Regions from separate parts of the Homo sapiens genome. Here regions 2, 3 and 4 are each linked to region 1. Evidence: fine-mapped expression QTL. A gene starts in region 1. Each other region holds a variant in brackets. All regions are shown on one strand. Distances are from middle to middle.

Region 1 (5,191 bases):
CGACTCCACCCCACATGGGAAGGGGGCCGGTGGGAGCTCCTCCTCTTCACGGGAACAGGTGGTTAAAGATGGTGGCCCCTCCTCTGCTCCCACGGTGCCTCAGGCCACCTGCAGGGCTGAGCAGGGACCCCCTGAAAAACCCGCACCCTGACACAACCTACGTTTTCTGGACGAGGCTCTCCTGCTCCTTGGCCAGAGACTTCTGTCCCGTAACCAGGGAGACTCTCAGAGGTGTGGCATCTGTGTAGATGTTGAAAACTTTGCTCACCTGCAGGAGAAGTCTGTCACTGGCCTGGAGGTAGCTGGTGTCCACCTACTGCAGCAAAAAGGACCCCAGATCTAATCTGGGTCCCCCAGGGGCTGATCGCTGTGCACTCAGCAGGGAAGCTGAGGCGGGCGGTGCCACGCTCCAGGTCTAGGGTCCACATACCTGCTGGGCCAGCTCCTTGGTGGGCAGCACAACCAGGGCACGGATGTGGCAGACCACTCTCGAAAGCAGGGCCTGAGGGGGAAGGAGCGCCTGCGTCAGCAAGGCTGTTACCTGTCCTCTGCACACCCGCTGTAGAGAAAGGGGACCCTCACACAGACCTGCACCACAGGGATGACGAAGGCCAGTGTCTTCCCACTGCCTGTTGGGGCAGAAACACAGAGGTCGCTAGGCCGGTAGCCACCTCTGCCCACCAGAAACCCACAGGCTGCGCTCTCCAGGAGGGCAGGAATCACAGCTGCCTGGACTGGATGAGGAAAGGCGAGAGAGAAGTCGTGTTTACGCCTAGGCCTAGGCCTGCCGCTTCCCTGCCTGTGACCTCTGGGCTGGGCTGCTCTGCTGGAGGCCTGGGAACCGCTCCCCAGAGGGATGGCACCAAGGCCCAGAGGAACGCCAGCCTCAGGAGACCCAAGTGGGAACCATGAGCTTGAGAGTGCTGAGACCACACTTGGCACCGATGTGGCAGGGACGCCTGACCCACGGCCACTCACAGCCTTGTGTGTGGGTGCCCAGGGAGGTGTTCCCTCAGCTGCCTGCCCGGGGCTGGGGCACCTGGAAAGTAGGACGAGATGCCGTGTGCCCGCAGCTGCTTCTGCAGGTCAGGATGGACGTCAGGGATGTCCTCGATAGGAACCAGGTCTTCGGTGACATTCCTTCTGACACAGTTAGGCTCAGCCAGCCACCTTGGCAGGAAAGGCTGGACCTGCCATCAAAAAGAAAGAGAGGCCAGGTGAGCGCTTTCCAGGCTCTCGCGCAGAAGCCCACGGTGGAAAAAGCTAGGGGAGGGAGGCTGGGGAAACCTCTGTCGTCTTCAGCTCCTTCTCAGCCCCAGGATGCGCTTTCCATACAGCCTTCAGAAGTTAAACAGTAAAAGCAGATGCCACTCCCTGAGCAAACTCACTCTGTAGCCTCCCATCAACCCACAGTGGCACCCACCCTCCCGCAGCCAGGAGGTCCTGTGACCTGGCGCTCGCCTGCCCCAGCCACGCCGGCGTCCCTGCCTCGAGGCCTCTGCCTGGCACCCCCAACCCCCAACCTTGACCTGGCTTCAAGTCTTTGCATCCCAACTCAAAGAGAACCTCCTCCACCTGCCCTACCTAAGGTGCCCGAGCACTCTGTCAAACTTCTCGCTTTCTTCACCTGTCTCGCCGGAAATCTCTTTACCGAAAACCACACGTGCTAAGCAAAAACACCAACGGTCAGGAGCTTGCAGAACGGCCTCTGACTTACTCCTGAGGCGGTGAGCGCACAGCAGGAAACCCCGCACGTTCACGCAAACACATCTTGCAGAACTGGCGCGGCGCGGCGGGAGGACAGGGGCAAGCCTAGCAGAGGAAACGGGAGCTCTGCACGTGCAGGATCCAGACCCCTAGGCGATGAAACTGCAGACCTGGCAGCGAGGCGCGGCTGTGACCCGGGAACATTCGCTGAACGAAATCTTCCGGGGCGACCGCCGCACTTAAGAATCCGCGCAGCCTACCCTCTCACGCCGACCACCCTCCCGCCCGCCGAGGCTCACCTTCGGCGCCTTCCTCTTCCCGAACCCCCCCAGCACCAGGCCGGGGACCAGGGGTCCGGCCGCCTCCTCCAGGGCCGGTCCATCTGGGGCCGCCTCGGCGCTGGCGCTGGTGCTGCGCTCCCCCGGCGCCTCCTCGCTGCTCCCTGCGCTGGGCTCCCCTGGCGCCTCCTCGCTGCTCCCTGCGCTGGGCTCCCCTGGCGCCTCCTCGTTGCTTTCTGCGAGGCAGACACCCACCCGGCAGCGCGTCAGCACCGAGTCGCCGGCGCCCCAGAGGGAGCCCGCTCGCCCCGCGGCCCACCTGCGCCCGCGTCCTCGCCGTCCGCCTTCCGTCGCTTTCCCTGCGGCGCCTCCGGGCTCCCCGGCTCCGCGTCGTTCACCCGCCGCCGCCGCCGGGGCCGCCGTCGCCTCCTGGTCGCCGGCTCGGTCGATGCAGCCGCCTCGGTCTGCGCGGGCTCCCGCTGCTGCTGCCGTTCGCGGGCCCGGCTCTGCAGCCGCTCGAGCAGCGCGCGGGCCCTGCCGTGCGCCCCGGCCTCCGCGCCCTCCGGCCCCGCCGCAGCTGCCGCATCGGGGCCCGGGTACCGCGCGACGTAGAACAGCGCCATGGCCAGCCGCACGCCTGGGACTCGGGCGTGGCGCGCTGCGATGACGTCGGCGGCACGCCTGCGACTCGGGCTCCGCGCAAAAGATGGGGTTGGGGTACGGCGCGTAGAGATGACGTCGGGTTCTACGCGCAGTGGTGACGTCACGGGAGCGCCGGCGGCTGAGAATCCGCGTTGTTCCGTGTTGGGGGCGGCATGGAGCGGGAGCCGGGCGCCGCGGGAGTTCGCCGGGCTCTGGGCCGCCGGCTGGAGGCGGTGCTGGCGAGCCGCAGTGAGGCCAACGCCGTGTTCGACATCCTGGCCGTGCTGCAGGTGGGCCTGGCGGCGTCGCAGGGCCGGAGTCGCGGCACGGGAGCGGGACTTGAATGGGGGGCTGCGGCGGCAGGTCCCCAGGAGGTTCCGAGACGGCGTTGGGGGGTCAGGGTGGGAGGCGTGTGGGTCACGGGTCGGGGGTGACGGGGCTGGCGTCCCGAGGGGGAAGGGAACGGGTTGGGGGCAGCCTAGGCAGGGGCGAAGGTGACAGTTGGCGGCCGGGCACCCTGCCGCCGCCTCTCCTGCAGTCTGAGGACCAGGAGGAGATCCAGGAAGCAGTCCGCACGTGCAGCCGTCTTTTCGGGGCCTTGCTGGAGCGGGGAGAGCTGTTTGTGGGCCAGCTGCCCTCTGAGGAGATGGTCATGACAGGTGAGCCCTGGAGGGCCCCGGGGCTGCTCTTCTCTTTCCGTGGGTCGGAGGGAGGCTTTGTCACCATGGGATGAGCGCCCCCAACCCTGGCACAGGCCGTGCAGGCTGGTGGGAGGACGCACCAAGCCCACCGTGGAAGATGGATGGTGGCGTTGGGGCAGGGGTGACATGGGTGCCCTGCAGCTGAGTGTAGATGAACACTGGACAAGGTACGACTTTTTGTGTGCTTTGCACCCCTTTTGTAATTTGATGTTGACTGATCCTGACACGGTCGCTTAAACTCGGAGCTTCCTTTATGTCCCCATCCTGGGGACGTCAGGTCTTGGAGTAAAGAGAGGGGATGTGGATCCTGCTCCTGGCAGCTTGGCTGGGGCAGTCCTGGGGTAGGAGGTGCTCTTCCTGTTTGCAGGGCTCAGGGAATGTGCTGGTCTCAGCACAGGTCTGGGGGCCTTAGCGACCTGTTTCCACCTGCGGAGGCTGAGTAGAAGACAATGGGAGGGTGGAGCCAGGCCTGAGATTTTGGGCTGGGCCCAGGGTGGCGTATGTGGGCCTCACGTGGGCTGACCACCCTAACCTGTCTGCAGGGTCCCAGGGAGCCACACGGAAGTACAAGGTGTGGATGAGACACCGCTATCACAGCTGCTGCAATCGCTTGGGAGAGCTCCTGGGCCACCCCTCCTTTCAGGTCAAGGTGGGTCATTGGGCTGGCCTCATCCTTGTCCATCCCCTGCACCCCAACTCCCAGGTTATCCACAAAGCAGAGGTCTGGGGCTCCCACAATTGTCCAGGCAAAGCTGCTTCCTTCATGGGAGCATCACCCTGTGGGTGTTCAGTCCCATTCAGAAACATGGCTATCGAGTCCTGTAGTGAATATTGAAGACGCAGAATCCGTGTTCATTTCCAGTGGCATCCACGGGGATCTCTGTGTTTGCATAGAGCACGCACACCAAGCCTCGTGCCAGTCCACAGATGTGTTTGCTCAGATCACACTGTGGTCTGCAGCCATGGGAATGCATTATGAGCTTTCTTAAAATCTGTAGTGAGGAATAACTGAGGCACAGTTTACCGTTTAAAGCTGAGAAGTTAGCATCTGTTACTGTGTTGTGCAGTGGTTGCCGCTATCCCAGAACATCTTTATCGCCCCGAAAAGAAATCCTGTACCAGTTACCATCGCTTCCATATCCCGCCCCTTTCCACCCCCAGCCCCAGGCAGCCACTCCTGGATCAGTGGTTACTTCCTGGATCAATGGGTTTGCTTTTTTTAGACGCTCCTCATAAGGGGGATCATACGGTATGTGGCTTCTTCCACTCATCGGCGTGTTCGAAGTTCGTTCTCTTTGTGGCTGAGTAGCAGCGCGTCGTATAGCACAGCACGTATCGTTCAGCCGCTCGTAGGTTGCTGGGCATTTGCGTCGTTTCCACCTTTGGCTGTTACGAACAGCGGACTGTGAACGTTCGCGTACAAACTCTTGTGTGATGTTTCTTTTGCTTGAATATGCCTTATCAGTGGAATTACAAGGCCACACAGCAGCTGTGTTTTTAATGTTCTGAGGAACTACAAGACTGTTTTCCATAGTAGCTGCGCTATCTTACCCTCCCCCTGGCAGCATTTGAGAGTTCCATACTCCACATCCTCGCCAACACGTCTGTCTATAATTATAGCCGAGCTGCAGACTTTTAAATGTTGGGGAGATACCACGTGAAAATAACCAGTTTCCACCTTCTCAGAAAGAAATAATCAGTTCTGTCAACACGGGGTCTAAGTTTGTTCATGGCTGCGATTGGCTGGAGGGAGAGTCAGAGACAGCTCTGAGACAGCCGTGTGCTCCTGTCATCCCGCACGAGGCTCTTTTGCTTTGTGGTGTCATTTGCCTGGGCCCTGAAAGCACTGAGTTTGCCACCCCG
Region 2 (5,000 bases), 120 kb before region 1:
TCACACAAGATCCAAAGTGGCAGCCTCGTTAAACAGCAGCAGAAAAGCCACAGGCATCTGGGCTAAAAACAGGGTTTTGTTCTATTTCTTCATTCTCCTTGACTGCTGTGATCTGGGAGTGGGGATGTCCGCCTCAGTACCTCGAACAGCATGGCAGGTCCTCAGCAGCTGTGTGTCACCCACCTTCCATGAGGGACAGAGGGTAGATGGCCTTTTCTTGACATGGAGCAAGATACCTTGTCTCTTAGTGTGTCGTCATCCACTGTCGGTGATGGGTTGCCACTTTCCTCACAGTAACTGAACTTTGCATTGATTTTTTTGTGTAGATTTGATTTTCAGTTTGTCAACTTATTTTTGTACTGTTTGGAAGTGCCTGGAGTGTGTGGCTGTGATGTACACATGCCTGTCATTGACACCTAGTGGACCTATGATTGCAGGCAGCGTCCTCCAGATCGTGTCCGCCCCCGGGCAGCCCTACCTTCGAGCCCCTGGCCCTGTGGTGATGCAGACCGTGTCTCAGGCGGGCGCTGTGCACGGCGCCCTGGGAAGCAAGCCCCCGGCCGGCGGTCCCAGCCCTGCACCCTTGACCCCACAAGGTAGGGTGCTCTGAGCAGGAGGGAGACTTGGCTTGGATGCTTCTTTCTCTTCCATCTAAGGCGAGTGGAAAGCATTCATGTGTCTTTGACTGTATCTCAGAACAGCACAGTCTAGTGTGTGGCCATCTCTGATTTCTATAGATGTGTCCTAGTGTCAGCCTGATTTATTTTCTTTTTCTTGTGCTTTCAAAGGTATTGGTTGGATATAACCAGCCTCCACTGTCCTTAGGTTTTTGTTTTGTTTGTGTTCTCACAAGAAATTTGGAATCATGAGAAATCTTGCTTGTTTGTATATCGCCAGTGTGCTCCGTTTCCCCTGGGAGTGGGAGTGTGTGGCCGCCCACGCAGGGTCTGGTTCTTTGTCCGGCCCGAGCTGCCACTCCTCATCCTGTCTCGCCACCTGCTTCACCTCTGAGTCCCCGCTCTGTGCCTGCCTTGGCCCCAGGTCTCTCTGGACATGCTCTGTCATGATGTGGTGTGTCCTCTGGAACCCAGAGACCCGTGGAGGCAGGTGGGAGCCTAGAGGGGTGAGGCTCTCTCCTTGGGATGGAGCCCTTGTCCTGGTGGCCGAGTGGTGTCCATTCAGTTCCAGCCCCACCTTTGCATAGTGGGCAGTGATGTTGGGTGGGTCACTGCCAACCTGTTAGGCTCTGTTAGTTATCAGAGGAGGCTGCAAGGCTGGAGTGGGGAGGGGCCATGGCTTGTTCTCCAGTCCTGTTAGCATCACCTAGCAGCAGTCCTGCATGCCAGCATGGTCAGCAGTTCCACTCACCAGGTTTTGCCGCTACCCCCAGAACCAGGCATCTTGGGGATTCCAGAACCAGCTGCTGCACCCTTCTTTGCGGGCTGATGAGTCACTGTCCCGTGGAAGCCCTCCTCAGCTTCAGAGGCCCCAGTACCAACTGGAGTCCTGGACCCTGAGGGTCTGAGCTCAGACACCCCCACCCCCAAGTGCTGAGTTCTGACAACCTCAGCCTCTCCTCTTGTTTTTCCCTAAGGTGACTCTTACCCCTGGGCCCCTTTTCAGCACTCAGACACCTCTTTGACCACATCTTTGTAGGAAAGTCTGCCGCACTAAGTGGCATGGCTTCTGCCTTCCTGATTGGCCCTGGCTGGTAGCAGGTGTCATGTCAGGAGCAGCTCCAGGGAACGGATATGAAACGGGCACTGGCTTGCTCTGTTGCAGTTGTGAGGACTGGGTGGACTTCCTGCCGGGGCTGGGCTGCTCATGGCAGGCAAGGGCCTCACAGTCATCAGGCGGTCACCTGGGCTAGGAGGTGGCCATGTGCTGATGGCGATGGGGTACCCAGGGCCTCGGAGGTGTGCTGGGATGCTTCTGGGTGGCTCTGGAGTGCCTCCCAAAAGAAAGGGATAAGCTGCTGGCTCCATTCAGCTCCAGTCATGGCCTGCGAGCCAGCATGCTTCCGTGGCAGGTCTAAAGCATTTAAGTTTGAGCCCATGCACATTCCAGGCATGTGCTGGTGGAGGATGAGGACTTGGGGACATGCCGTTGCAGAATGACTTTCTGTGGAGTGTGCTGGTGGAGGGTGAGGTTCCATGGAGCATGCTGGTGTCAGATGAAATCCTGTGAACTTGGCGTTCCTTTTCACCTCTTCCTTTATGCATTTGTAGTTGGCGTTCCGGGCCGCGTGGCGGTGAATGCCTTGGCTGTAGGAGAACCCGGAACGGCCTCCAAACCAGCTTCTCCCATTGGAGGGCCGACCCAGGTAAGCACCTGAGCTTGAGACCCCGGTGCACGTGGACAGGTAGCTTTCCAAGAGCTGCTCGTTGTGTTTGGTTGTGATATTTAAAGGCTCCTGTGAATTCTCAAGTGATGTTACTGAATTCTTATTTTAAAACACACATTTTCTAATAAAATAAATGAAACTGGACTTACGACTGCCACAATCT[T/A]TTTTTGTATTTTTTATGTCCTTCTGCAAGTCTTCCTGGGCATTAGAATTGCTCACTTGTGTCTTGAGAAATACTTCCCATCTTGGCAAAGAAGAGAACGCTTGTGCTCTCGGCTTCATTTCCATCTCTATTTCCTGTAGCTCTCGGCTTCATTTCTATCTCTATTTCCTGTAACACAAGACCGGGGATATTGAAGTGGATCTCATATGTGGGAAATCACGGGCTGGGTGGGGGGTTGGTGAAGACAGGAACTTGTCATTCTGTTTCTCAAGTAACTGTTTTTCATCACTTTTTGATAAAGGAGGAAAAGACCAGACTCTTGAAAGAGCGCCTGGATCAGATTTATTTAGTCAACGAGCGGCGCTGTTCTCAAGCTCCAGTCTATGGCAGAGACTTGCTAAGGATTTGTGCCCTGCCTAGCCATGGAAGGGTACAGTGGCGTGGGTCCCTGGATGGCCGTCGTGGGAAGGAGGCCGGGCCAGCGCACAGTTACACTTCATCCTCAGAAAGTCCAAGTGAGCTGATGTTGACGCTTTGTCGGTGTGGAGAGTCTCTGCAGGATGTTATTGACAGGTACTGCAGACCTCGTGACCTTTTCGGTGCTCTCTGGCTGCATTGCACCCCGGCAAGACCCCTTCTTGTCTCGTGGATGTACATCTTACTCCCATCGGCTTCTCCCCACGCTGTCCCTTAGCGGTCTGTTTTGAAGTTAGTCTTTGAGGTCTTCAGCTTTGGGATCAGATGGTTTTGTTATCTGGGTCTCAGTGCCAGGTGCGGCTTCTGAAGGAAGTTGGCAGCCCTGGGGGCAGAGCCGCAGCACTGAGCTCACACTGTGCTTGGGGACAGATCACTGTGTTGCTAAGGACTTTCTCCATTTGACTCTTTCAAAAAATGATTGCATTAAAAGAGCCCCATGAGTGAGTGAACATTACATGATGACAAATGTGGGCAGGAGTTGATCTCAGAACGTGCTTTAATGGAGAGCAAATCTGAGCACCGGTGGGCACGGTGGGCACCCGGCCGCTCTCAACTGAGCTTGCTTTCAGTAGAGTGCGTTACCCTGTTTGCATTTCCACTCCCTGCTTGGACCCCATCTCCAGGCTCCACTTCAGACATGTTTTCTTCCCTTCTTTGCAGCTGTTGTAGTTCTCAGTTGTCTCCTGTCTGCAGAGGGCAACCTGGCTTCTTCCTGTGCCTTGGCTCAGCTCAGCTTTCAGGATCTACCTATTTCAGTTCTTTCAGATCAGGAAGCAGAATTAATGGAAAAAAAGAAAACTGGGAGTGCTTCTCCAAGGCCGAACAAGCCACTTCTGGCTTCTCCTGGTCTGGGAGTGACTATGTCAGTGACCTTGTGCTCCTGGAGTTTTTCTTTCGAGTACTGATTTGTCTTTGTGTACTCCTCCCTCATTGAACATCATGGGTGACCATTCGTTCAGTTTGAATACAGCTGGGAGTGAGTCATAGTTGATGTCCATAGCAAGGGCCTTCTGGTGCAGGTGACCTCCACAGGTTGCAAGGTGGGCCTTAGGTTGGCTGTGCGATCTTCGCTCTATTGTCATTGTCCTGAAGGCTCCTTCACCCTGAGTCTGGCCCCCGTCCTGGTGGCACAGTGGCTATAGCAGTTCTAGGGTCCACGAGACAGTGCACCTTTGTCCCAAAGTTTCCAGCTGAAGACACACTAGAAAGAGAATGGCTTATCTCTGACCTGGTGCCTGCGGCCTAGGGAATCCACCCCCATTGATCCATCAGCCCTGGACTGTCTGAATTAGTCCCCGAGGTGGTGGTTATTGGCCAGGACTGGTTAGGATCTGCCTCGTTGGGCCCCTGCCCGTGTGCCAACACCCACATCCCCATGTGACTGGGTTGAGCCCTGCTGTTTCCTGGGACTTGGACTGTCAGAAGTCTGCCCCATCTTTCAGGAGCCCCCATGCTGGGTGAAGGTGTGTGGCTCCTGGTGGTGACAAAACATGCTTTCTGCTCCTCAGGGTGGCCTTTGTGATTCCTCCGGTGGTGGCAGCACCCCCGTCCCTACGGGTGCCGCGGCCGCCACCCCTGTACAGCCACAGAATGAGGATCTTGAGGCAGGGCCTGAGAGAGCACGCTGCGCCGTACTTCCAGCAGCTGCGGCAGACCACGGCTCCACGCCTGCTGCAGTTCCCTGAGCTGAGGCTGGTGCAGTTCGACTCAGGTATGCGGCAGTTGGGGGCGTGGCCCGTGCGGGAGCTGCACCGGCCCTGGATGATGAGGCGCTCTTGATGTGATTCGTTTCCCAGGGAAGTTGGAAGCTTTAGCTATCTTGCTTCAGAAATTGAAATCTGAAGGACGTCGGGTGCTGATTTTATCACAGATGATTCTTATGTTGGACATTTTAGAGATGTTCTTGAACTTCCATTACCTCACCTATGTAAGAATCGATGAAAATGCCAGCAGTGAGCAACGGCAGGTGAGAAGCACATTGTTTACATTGTCTCTGATGGGTCAGTCACTGGTGTT
Region 3 (5,191 bases), 55 kb after region 1:
TAAGCAACTGGGTGTGGCTGGGCGCCAATAAAACTGTATTTATTAAAACAGGCAAGGGGCTGGGCTGCGGCAGGGCCCAGGTGCCTGGGAAAGAGGTGGGACCGGGCCCCAACCCCCAGCTCGGCTCCCAGGAAGACACACACAGTGCTGCTGCCTAATCCTCTCTTTATTTGGTCTCTGCTGAAGCAGTCGTGCCAGCCTCCTAGACACGGCCTCAGGTTTGTCGCTGTCCATGTCCTCCAGCACCCCTCTTACCAGACCACAAGGAGCTGCATTATGATGTGTGACTTAGGTCTTGGTTGGAGGGCTGAGCGGCCGCAAGTGCTGGGGGAGGCTGCTTGGAGCATGGGAGGCCTGCGGGTGGAAGACACCAGGGTGCAGCCTGGTGCATGGTCCGGGGCTTGGCCTCCCTATGGGGCGTGGGGGGCTGTGGTACATGCAGAGGCGGCGGCTGTCCCAGCAGCCTGGCCAGGAGATACCGTGGAGAAGGCACGTGTTTGAGTTGGCATCACTGTCCCCAGACGCCCTCCCTCGGGTAGAGCCGCCTGTCCTAGGAGAAGCTGTACTCCAGATGCAGTGGGTGACACCCTGGTCACTCAGCCACACCCCGGCCCCTCAGCCTCTGCTGTCCTGGCCGCACATAGAGCCCTGTCCTGCTGTGTCTGCCGGGCACACCCCGGTCACTCAGCCACACTGGCTCGGCCCAGCGCCTTCCCGAGGTCTGTGGGGGTCCGGGCGGAGGTGGGGTCAGTGCCGTGCGTGTTTGATCCAGTTTCTGATCATCCACTTCTGCCCCGAGCACCTCTGTACCACCAGCCGGAGCCCAAAGTTGGCATCTTTGGACATCTCCACCTCCAGGCAGCGGCCCGTGGCCCGGCTCACAATGGGGCCACTCTGTGGGGACAGGCACATCAAGTCAGCCAGGTGCAGGCGTCCTTGTTCCCCCTCCCCCCACCTCAGGGAGGCTGCTTCGTGCTCTCAGCCCTCGTGCTCATTCTTGGGGCAGCTTGAATGGAAAGCCAGCATCACAGCAGCACCCAGGGGGGCCGGGAAGGGGCTGACTTCAGTGGAGCTTCGAGGATTTCCCATCTTTCCTGCAGGGCTAGCGGCCCAGGTTGGAATCATACCTCATCCCCTTCCTAAATCCTCCCTCTACCCTGGGCACCTGAGGCTGGAAGAGGCAGATGCAGGGCTATGATCAGACTGTCCAGCCCGACCCCTCTCTGGCTGTGTGACCCTGACCAGTCACCTGCCCTCTCTGTGAGCGTCGGGGCCCATAAGGGAACAGCTGATCCAAGGCCCGGTCCCCTGACCACCCCCTGCCGCACTCCAGCTCCCACCCAATGGGCTGGCTCTAGTGGCAGAGGCACCCAGGGGTCCCAGCAGCCCTGCCCCGCCCCAACCCCACGGCCCCCCTTCCCCAGAGGCTGACCTGGGTGAAGTCCCACAGCCGCTGTGTTGGCCGCGCCACATCCTCACACTTCTTCAGGGTGGGCATGCGGCCCGTGCCGTCATCCACCAGACACTTGGAGTCAGGCAAGAAGGCTGTGGAGCCCAGAGGCCCCAGCTGCAGCAGTCCATCAGCGCTGTACCGCACCAGCTGGGGACAGGACCACCGGGACTGTGTGTGAGCAGCGCCCAGGCTCTCCCCAGTGAGCACTGACAGGCCGTGCGAGCTGCCTTGAGCTGCAAACGGGGCCCTGCGCGGCTGCCTTGGAGCCTCCCACCCCGGGGACGCTGTTGCGGGCGGGAGAGGACCGCCGGGCAGGGCCCACGTGGGGATGCGGGCTGGACGGCGCCCAAATGCTCCGCAGGGCCAGGCTCCCGGCTTGCACAGCTGGCTGGTCTTCCGCCTGGACAGACGTCATGAATGTGGCTCAGACCCAGAGCGCGGCCCCACTCGTTTCGGGGAGGACAGGAGTTGGGTTTAATTTGGGCAACATGCAGTGCCGTGTGTGAGCGGAACACGCATTCCCGTGGGGTTAGAAACGTCCAGCTCCTTATGGGGGTCATGGTCAGAATGGCCTGGACCTTCACTACGGCCAGCCCCTGACCACTGTGATTCTGCGGGGCTGGGGCTGGGGCTGGGCCTGGGCCTGTGCTGCAGGTGAGTCCTGCCCAGGTGGGGAGTGCTCGGAGGTCAACAGCACTATTGCCGTGTTAATCCACCCCCCGAGCCAATGCTTCCCACACTTCGCTTCAATCACGCGACAGTCCTGAGCGGTAAGTGCTGTTGCCGTCTCTCTTGACTGAGGGGGGAGTGATGCACCCCCAGCCCATCTGACCCCAAAGGCCTGGTTCCTTTTTAATTTTTTGAGATACGGTCTCGCTCTGTTGCCCAGGATGGAGTGCACTGGTGTGATCTCAGCTCAACCTCCGCATCCCAGGCTCAGGTGATCCTCCTGCCTCAGCCTCCCGAGCAGCTGGGAATACGGGCATGCCCCACCATGCCCGGCTAATTTTTGTATTTTTTGTAGCGACAGGGTTTCGCCACGCTGCCCAGACTGGTCTCAATTCCTGGGCTTAAGTGATCTGTCTGCCTTGGCCTCCCATCGTGCTGAGATGACAGGCGTGAGCCACTGCACCCGGCCCAGGCTGTTTTCAATTCCCCGTGTTCTGCTACCTTCCAGGTGGGGC[G/A]GGCTGGGAGGCCTCTTCTAGAGGGGCCCTCAGGCTGCTCCAAGCCCTGGAATGCAGCCCTGGTGGCCTCAGAACACCCCAGCAGGCTGGACCCGTGCCTCTGCCCCAGGGTGTAGGGTCCGGGTGGCCTGGGGTCGTCCCCTTGGGAGCTGCATGGGTGGCCGCTGCTACTCCTACCTGGGAGGACATCCCGTGGCAGGGGTAGAGGATCGCCCGGTCGCCGTCCTCCGCTCCCTGGTCCAGACAGTAGGCACTGGCTTTGCTGTTTCTCACCTGCAAGCAGAAGCCCCAGGAGAAAGTCCAGAGTCACCCGAGGGTGCGGCCCCAGGGAGCTTCACGCAGCCAGCTCTGCAGCCAGCACCTAAGGAGGTGCCCGCGGGAGGAGGAGGGGGCGTGTGGGATGCTCTGGCCGGGTGGGCTGCCTGGGAAGGGGTGGCTGACCGAGTTTGTCACTGATGGAGACATGGAAGTGTCCGCCATGCACAGATGGAGACTTGGCCATCACTCCATAGGGGAACACTTGAGCAGCAGGGACGACGGCCCCAGGCTGTGGAGTGGCTTCCCTGCCTTGCCGCCTGCTCCCTGTGCCCTTGCGGCTCCCACTGAGTGGGTAGAGACCGCTCGCCAGCCTTGCAGTCTAGGCTGGCCTTGGCTTGGACCCTTGGGAGACCTTCCAGCTTCCACTCTGTCTTGGAAGGAACCCTGACAGCCCTCTGAGAACAAGCCCGGGCCAGACTGCTGGGGGATGTGTTGTCATCGGGCAGCCAACCTCCAGCCTCCAGAACAGGCCCATCGGAGATCAGCACAGCCTGGATCAGGCCAGCAGCACTGCCTGGGTGGCCCCGGCTCGTGAGCAAGTGTAGATGCTTATTGCTTTTGTCCACCGCGTCTCCAGGCTGCTGGGTTTGCAGCAGCAGCTGACCCATCCACCACGGCCACCACGAGAGGTCACACAGGTTTGAATTGGGACCGTTGAGGAAGCCCAGCAGAGTCTGGATGTTACGGCTGCTCTGGGTTGGGGGTGCCTGCACTTGGCTAATTGAGGATGGAGTGGGCAGAGTAGAAGCACAGGGAGGCTGGGGGAGAGGGGCGGTGCCCCGATGCACACTCAGCACTGCCTGGGAAACCTCTGTGCCCAAGGGACTGGAGTCAGCGCAGGGTGGACCAGGAGCTGCAGGAGGGGAGGCTCAGCGAGGACCATCCACCCCAGGGACCCTTTTCCTTGCCCCATCCGAGTGCCAGCTCAGGGCTGGGACGCTCGAGTCTCATGGTGGGAGGCACCCCATCCCCTGCACAGACTGGGGAGAGGGCAGAAGAGCAGCACCTTCTCGCTGGCTTTACGGAGTGCTGTGCATGTGGGGGCCAGTGGAGACGGGGGTCTCTGTGTAGCTGATGGGCCTGTGTGAGTGTGCATATCACCCATTGTGTGCATCTGTGGGGGCACCTTCATGCATGCACGCTGGTGTATGAACGTGGCTCCGCATATGTGGATGCACAGACGTGTACACACACACATTATTTTGCTTGATAACAAGGGCCTGTGTGTTTATCTGTGCACAGGCAGGCGCCTTTGGGGTTCATGCACTTAGTGAAACATACATCTGTGTAGGAAGAGCTGTGTACATTAGCAAAACTGGGTGCAAATGTATACTCGTGTCCGCGTGCTCTTGTACATATGAGTGTTTGCATGGATTTACGTACCTGCCTGTGAATGTCTCTGTACACACATCTAGGTGAGTGCATGTATCCCTATGTACACATACGTGAGAGCGTAGGTACATTGAATCAGGCATGTGAACACGCATGGATGTGACTACACACCTGCCTGCCTCTAGGGAGGTCCATGTGAAGGAATGGGTGTGTATGGACATGTGGGTCTGCAGGTGCGTGTGTTTATGTGAACCTGCACCTTGTGTGTGCACGTGGATGTGCCTGCATCACCGTGAATGCACACGTGTGTGCAGGAGTCAGGGCGGAAGGCCTGTCGGGCCGAGTGGGACCCTCTGGGGGAGGCGCTACCTCTCCGTGTGCATGTGGATGTGCCTGCATCACCCTGAATGCATACGTGTGCAGGAGTCAGGGCAGAAAGCCTGTCGGGCCGAACGGGGCCCTCGGGGGAGGTGCTACCTCTCCGTACGTGAGGGTGTTGTTGTAGACCCTCATCTCCGGGTACACGTTCTCCAGGTACCACTTGAAGCTGCGACACTTCAGCCTCTGACGCAGGGCCAGCCTCTCAGACACGTCCCCGAAGTCCACCCCTGGGTTCTGCAAGGCCAGAAGTAGGTGAGAGGGTACATGGGTGTCACCATGACCTGGGTCTTCCCCATAATGAGGTTGGGGGTCTCCAGGGACCAAGTGCCCTCACAGGAGCAGCCTCCCCCCCAGTATTCAGATGCTGAGGCCCCATCCAGTTGGGACCCCCCAGCCTCCTAATATCCACAGAGGGTCTGAGGCAGCTGCTCCTGATGGGAAGGACCCTGCCAGAGGCCAGCCCCGGCCTGGACAGACGGCCCCTGCTGCAGCCGGCTCGTCCACACCCACCCGGGCCCAGGAA
Region 4 (5,191 bases), 670 kb before region 1:
AGCACGCACCCAGCATTTGTGCCCATCCCTTGCCCCACGCTGCAGGGCCTGCCTCCTGGGGACCTCTGAGCCTCTGAGCCCTGTGCTGCTCACGACGCTGAGAACGCTCCTGATCAGGAACGGACCCTACCCGCACGCCCAGGGCCTCACGAGCTCAATCAGGCCATCCCTCGACAACAGCTTCCAGGTGTGCCCTGCCTTCTGAACATAAAAGCTGATGAAAATCCCATCGCCCATTGGGAGTAAACGCCATGTGCATGGCTCCTCAGGAGGAGTCTGTAGGGAGAAAATCTTTCTTCCTTAATCTTCTGATAAGAGACCTATTTTCCCTACTGCAGTCGTGAGACACCCATAAGCAGTGATGCGGTGTTCCTGATGAGTTGTGAATTATCTCCTAAGTGTCTAAAAAGCGCCTCAGCCCACAGCAGCCTGCTGCCTTCAGAGGATGCACTAGATAACGGTCTCCCCAGCTGCTGGCGGGAGTCCTGTTCCGGTGTGGTGAGGAGCCAGGGACGTGGACACGGGAAGCCTGAGGGATTCTGCACCGTCTCCATCCCTTTCTGCTGGCCAGAGCCACTCCCAGGCTCAAGCCCAAAGCCAAGGGCAGAGGGTGGGGGCTCCACAGGGAGGGGTGAAGCCCTGTAGCCATGAGCTGGATCTATCACAGCCCCCACAGAGGGCTATTTACAGGTGGTGGTGAGAGAGGAGCTGAGATGTCCCTGAGGGGCGCCTGGGGAGGAACAGGCCCTACAAGGTGACTCCAGGTCAACCTCTTAGGAGGACACCATCTCCCGGGATCCCGGAGGGAGCCACACGTTTCTGAACAGGGCCAGATGGAAAGTAGGAAATATGAGGGGTAGATGAGACTAGAACTGTTTTCAAAGATACAGAAAAAGGAGGGATTAACTCCAGGGACCCTCTCCCTACTAGAATTCCTGAAGGAAATGCATAAAGAAGACAATTTACTGAGAAGCAGTTTGAAATACAGTAAGTTACAGTGAGAAAAGAAAATGATGTATATGGTACAATAGTAAATAATTATTAAATAATAATATCGACAGAGGAAATAAAACCAAACCCAGCTAGAAGACTGTATGTTAACAGCCTGTCAGCCAGAGGGCAATAGTTGAAATTAATAATCATAATTCAGAAAGGAGGCAGAGATGGCTATTAATGAAAGTGTAATGAATTAAACGCACTTGTCAAAAGGTAAGCGACAAGAGATGCAGAATGTCCATCCTAAAAACCAGTAGGGGAAGGAAAACAATGAAAAAAAATTCTGAAGAAGACAAGTCCATGCTGTGCTATATTATCTTAGAAAACACAAACATCTCCGTGTTTCTGTATGTGTTTAACATATCTCTGGAAGGTTCACAGAAGACGGGGTTGCCCACAGGGAACATGGAGATTCCTGTCTAAGTGGTAGTTGTTAGAGAAAGAGGACATTCATTTAAAATCCCAGCATATTCTTCCTGGTGAAAATTAATTTTAAAACCCATCATTTAAGAGATTGGAAAAGTGTGGCTGTAAACTGGAGGAGAACTAAAGGACATGCCAGGAGAGAATGTGGGCTTAGGGAGGAGTTCCCTTGAGCCGGGAGCTCCTGGGAACATCTAGAGGGGAGGGGACGCAGCCACGACAGAGGCGGAGGAGGAGTCAGGAGAGGAGACAGTGGTGCAGGGGAGGCAGGACGGGGCCAGCGGTGCTGCCAGGGCCTGCTCCTGCTCTCCCAGAGCTCCTGCTGTGCCCGTGGTCACACTTTTCCATACCTCCCTGGAGCTGTAGACAGGCGAAGGCCCCTGAGTGGTGTAGCCACGCCAAGACGTGCTTTAGGAAGGAAACTGCCCAAGCATTAAAGGGAAATGAGGTCACGGTGAACTTTGTCCCCTCTGGGCTTGAACAGAGAAGAGCATCTGTCCTGGGATGGAGGACGTGGATGGAGCAGGACCACGCAGCGTGGCACCTGCAATGTCAGAGGCACCTGGGCAGGAACACCTGGCACAGCCATGTCATCTTGTTTGTGCCTCGGTTCATCCTCCCAGAGCCGGCCCCTCCATCCCCAGGAGCGAACCCCACCCTCCCTATCATAATGGGCTGACCAGGGCCAAATTGGTTTCATGAAAAGGAGACACCTGCAGGCAGAGCCCAGCGGACACTCGGTTGTCTGAAGTTGCCGCACCTGCTTCATTTTGCTTATTGAGCTACTCCTGATGCCCACAGCACTTTCTAACAAGAAATGAGCAGCGAATCCACGGAAACCAATGGGAATGGGATGTGGCAGGCATGATTTACAGTTTAGTTAATTCGAATAAGCAGAGAATCACACCCACTGAGAGATTCGGAACCACAGCCTCCACGACACACGGCTCCTCTCAGCAGGAGTCCTTCCCAGCAAAGGCTCCCCCAACACACCCCGTTCCACATCACGGAGTGCCAGCCCCGGCCCAGCCCGGCTCATCCTCAGGGAGATGGACTCAGCAGGGCTGCCAGAGCCCAGGCCAGCGCTGCTCCCTCCCTCACCGTCCACAACCAGGGCCAACTCATCTTCACAGCTCGACCCCATGCTCTGGTCACTTTTCAGCCCAGTGACTGTTTCAAAGGCATCTGGCACAAGTCAGGAGAGTGCTGTGGAGTCAGTGGAGGCTCCCAGCCAATGAGAGCACCCCCTTCAGGTGAGCTCCTTCCCCCATGGGGACTGCAGCATGGGGAGACCAGCTTCCCCGCATCAGCCCTGCATAAGCTCTGAGCTCTGCTGCTCCATGCCCCGCACGGCTGCTCTAGGGATGAGCATGGTGATATCTGGCTTCCGTGTCCGGGGAGCCTCTGGTCATCAGCAAAGTGAGGGGTGCACACACAGCCCTGC[G/A]GTGAAGACAGGGGTGTGGCTGATAGGACCCCAGGGCATCGGGACTCCCACCTGTCAGCAGCAGAAGTGGACCTGCTCTGTGCACAAGGGAGCTGCCTTTGACCTGATTTTGGCAGTGATGGCGGTGTCCACAGAGGTCAGGATTTACTGATTTAGAAAAGAAATGGCTGGGATTGCAAACCATGAGCTTTGTGGCCCTCCAGACCACAGGTGGCTGCAGACTTGGACTGAGAGGCCCCAGAGGCCAGGCAGGAGGGCCCCAGTCTGTCCCAGAACACATGAGTCCAGGCCTGGCTGCTGATCTCCTGATGGTTCCCCCAGCACTGTCTACCTCCCAGAAGCCTCGGTGTCCCCATCTAGATGAGGAGACAGGGGTCTGGACCTCAGAATCAACCAGGAAGGCTCCAGTGGAATGGTGGGAAATGGGAGTGACCCACCCATGCCTTCCCAGCGAGACTCCCAAGAGCCGCTGTGGATCTGGGACTGAAGTCCCCTGGGCAGGGCAGCTGTGGGCTGGGGCAGGGATGGGGGCTGGCCAGGGGGAAGAGGCACGTGGTAAGGATAGTGCCCTGGATGGGGGGATCAGGGCCACTTTGGGAACCAGCCGGGGCAACAGAAGTGTGTCCAGGTGATTTGGGCATGAAAAACAGGATCTGTGGGAAGAACCGAGGGGTCTGTGCAGGGATTTCATGTTCTGGCCCCACATCCTGCTCTGTGTCCGTGAACCCATGAGCACGGGTCCCTTCCCCCAGAGTCCACCCGGCCTCAGCAGGAGGGAAGCAGGGGCAGGTAGTGTGGAGGCCTGAGCCACACTGACCACCCCGCACATACGTGCCCTCTCCAGGCACCCGAGGAGGGGCAGCTCCCCGCAGACAAGGGCTCCACCTGGAGTGACAGCAGCTCTGCCTGGAGCATCCCTGACTCATCTGAAAAGCCACTGATGGGGCCCCACTCAGCGAGGAGGCCGACACTTAGCAGGGACAGGACAGGTGGACGGGGCGCCTGTCTGTGTCCCCATTTACGCCAATGGGAGCTCAGGCATGCACGGCCGCTCCCGGGCTCCTCACCCAGATATAGCCTCAGGACAGCAGGTCTGGGCTTCCCACTGAAGACCCCAAGGGGCAGCGAGCTGGTATAAGAGATAAGGGGAACATACATTTAACTCTTGGCTTTTTACAGTAGCTATTTGCCAAAATTAAAGGAAAAAAAGAATTTTCCTGGGACAGCCAAGGGTGAAACATCCAAGTGGGTTTAAAATCCTCAACATTCCAAGCTGAGAGGCCACGAGGTTCACCCAGGTTCACAGCAGAGCCCAGTAGAGCCACATCCTTCCCAACAGGAAATGCCTGTCCCTGTGAGATCAACTGCAAGATGCCCATAACCACGAGAGAGCGTTTTGCTTCCTTCTCTGCGCGAATCGGCTGCTCCTTCCATCTCACCAGCAGCAAGGTAACAGCAACACCTGAGTGAGTGCCCATGGGTCCCGGGGCTAAGCTGACTCCCCAGCATGTCCCAGGAGGCAGGCGCCCTTATCCCCATTTTACAGATGAGGAGACTGAGGCTCAGCGAGGGTAGAAGGGTCCCCGATTCCCACACTCAGAATTGGTGGAGCCCGAGTCAGCCCGAGTCCATCTGACCCTGGAGCCGCCCCTGCTCAGCCCTGGGCCCCGCCCACCAGGGCACAGCCAGTTTGTGAAGGATTTTAACAGAAAAGCCACAAATCTGATGTGAAGACGCCTACCTGAGAGACGGTGAGCCGAGGGGTGACCCGGGGCAGGGAGCAATGAAGCCCCTGGAGCAGGGCCCAGGGAGCCGGGCCGAGGAGAGTCTGGGAGGTGCATCAGCCTCTGGGACTCTTAGGAAGCTCCAACGATGACACCGGCCGTCCCTCACCTGAAAATGCACAGGCTGCGTCACGTGGGAGGGAGGAGTGACTGTTTCTGAGAGCGAGGAGCCTCCTAGTGCACAGAATGGGTCAGCCGCTGAGCAAATGCTGCATTGCAGGCCTGGCCCTGTGTGACTCTGGGGAACATTCTGGCCGCCAGTGCACATCTGAGGCCAGCTCTCCCCTCCAGCTATTTGATCCAGGGCAGAAACTGATCACACCCAAGCCCAGAGGCCCCGAGGATATCGCAGAGACCCCGAGGAAATCGATCGAAACCAGACTCATTTCCACGGTTCAGGAGCTTGTCACTGCTCCTGACCTGCTGCTGGGTCCTCCTGGGTGCTTCAGGCTGGAGCAAGGAGCACGGGCGGCTCCGGAGGCTCTGGAGGGGGAAGGAGCCACCCAGAGCCCGGGGGAGCAGGAGCAGCGTGAACAGTGACTTG

Evidence for each region. PIP is the estimated chance that this variant, and not a neighbour inherited with it, causes the effect. A credible set is the group of variants that fine-mapping cannot tell apart.
Region 2: its variant is the best candidate, but not a certain one, in a credible set for the expression of NOC4L in atrial appendage (GTEx, PIP 0.73).
Region 3: its variant is the best candidate, but not a certain one, in a credible set for the expression of NOC4L in whole blood (Lepik 2017, PIP 0.66).
Region 4: its variant is the best candidate, but not a certain one, in a credible set for the expression of NOC4L in subcutaneous fat (GTEx, PIP 0.76).

What each region holds. Positions count from the first base shown.
Region 1 is chr12:132,141,689-132,146,879 of GRCh38, forward strand. It overlaps NOC4L (nucleolar complex associated 4 homolog), which reads left to right and starts at 2,769. Exons shown (of 15, transcript NM_024078.3): 1 at 2,769-2,917; 2 at 3,166-3,286; 3 at 3,871-3,977. The coding sequence starts at 2,801. DDX51 (DEAD-box helicase 51) reads right to left here and starts at 2,631. Exons shown (of 15, transcript NM_175066.4): 1 at 2,305-2,631; 2 at 2,007-2,221; 3 at 1,040-1,190; 4 at 589-734; 5 at 431-502; 6 at 162-268. The coding sequence starts at 2,608. RefSeq lists enhancers at 717-1,622, 2,552-2,851 and silencers at 2,222-2,421, 2,492-2,541.
Region 2 is chr12:132,025,209-132,030,208 of GRCh38, forward strand. It overlaps EP400 (E1A binding protein p400), which reads left to right. Exons shown (of 53, transcript NM_015409.5): 25 at 438-596; 26 at 2,229-2,323; 27 at 2,809-3,080; 28 at 4,493-4,695; 29 at 4,781-4,950. Among named protein-coding and RNA genes, the nearest start is that of SNORA49, 3.5 kb to the right of the region's middle. RefSeq lists a silencer at 2,796-3,090. The variant T/A (reference allele first, on the strand shown) is at 2,508.
Region 3 is chr12:132,196,360-132,201,550 of GRCh38, forward strand. It overlaps GALNT9 (polypeptide N-acetylgalactosaminyltransferase 9), which reads right to left. Exons shown (of 11, transcript NM_001122636.2): 8 at 4,765-4,902; 9 at 2,815-2,910; 10 at 1,433-1,600; 11 at 13-894. The coding sequence ends at 748. It overlaps LOC105370091 (a long non-coding RNA gene), which reads left to right and starts at 2,904. Exons shown (of 6, transcript XR_007063541.1): 1 at 2,904-3,006; 2 at 3,335-3,593; 3 at 4,822-4,928; 4 at 5,080-5,191. The variant G/A (reference allele first, on the strand shown) is at 2,638.
Region 4 is chr12:131,469,703-131,474,893 of GRCh38, forward strand. It overlaps LOC101929974 (a long non-coding RNA gene), which reads right to left. Exons shown (of 4, transcript NR_187799.1): 2 at 4,605-4,756. Among named protein-coding and RNA genes, the nearest start is that of LINC02370, 120 kb to the left of the region's middle. The variant G/A (reference allele first, on the strand shown) is at 2,864.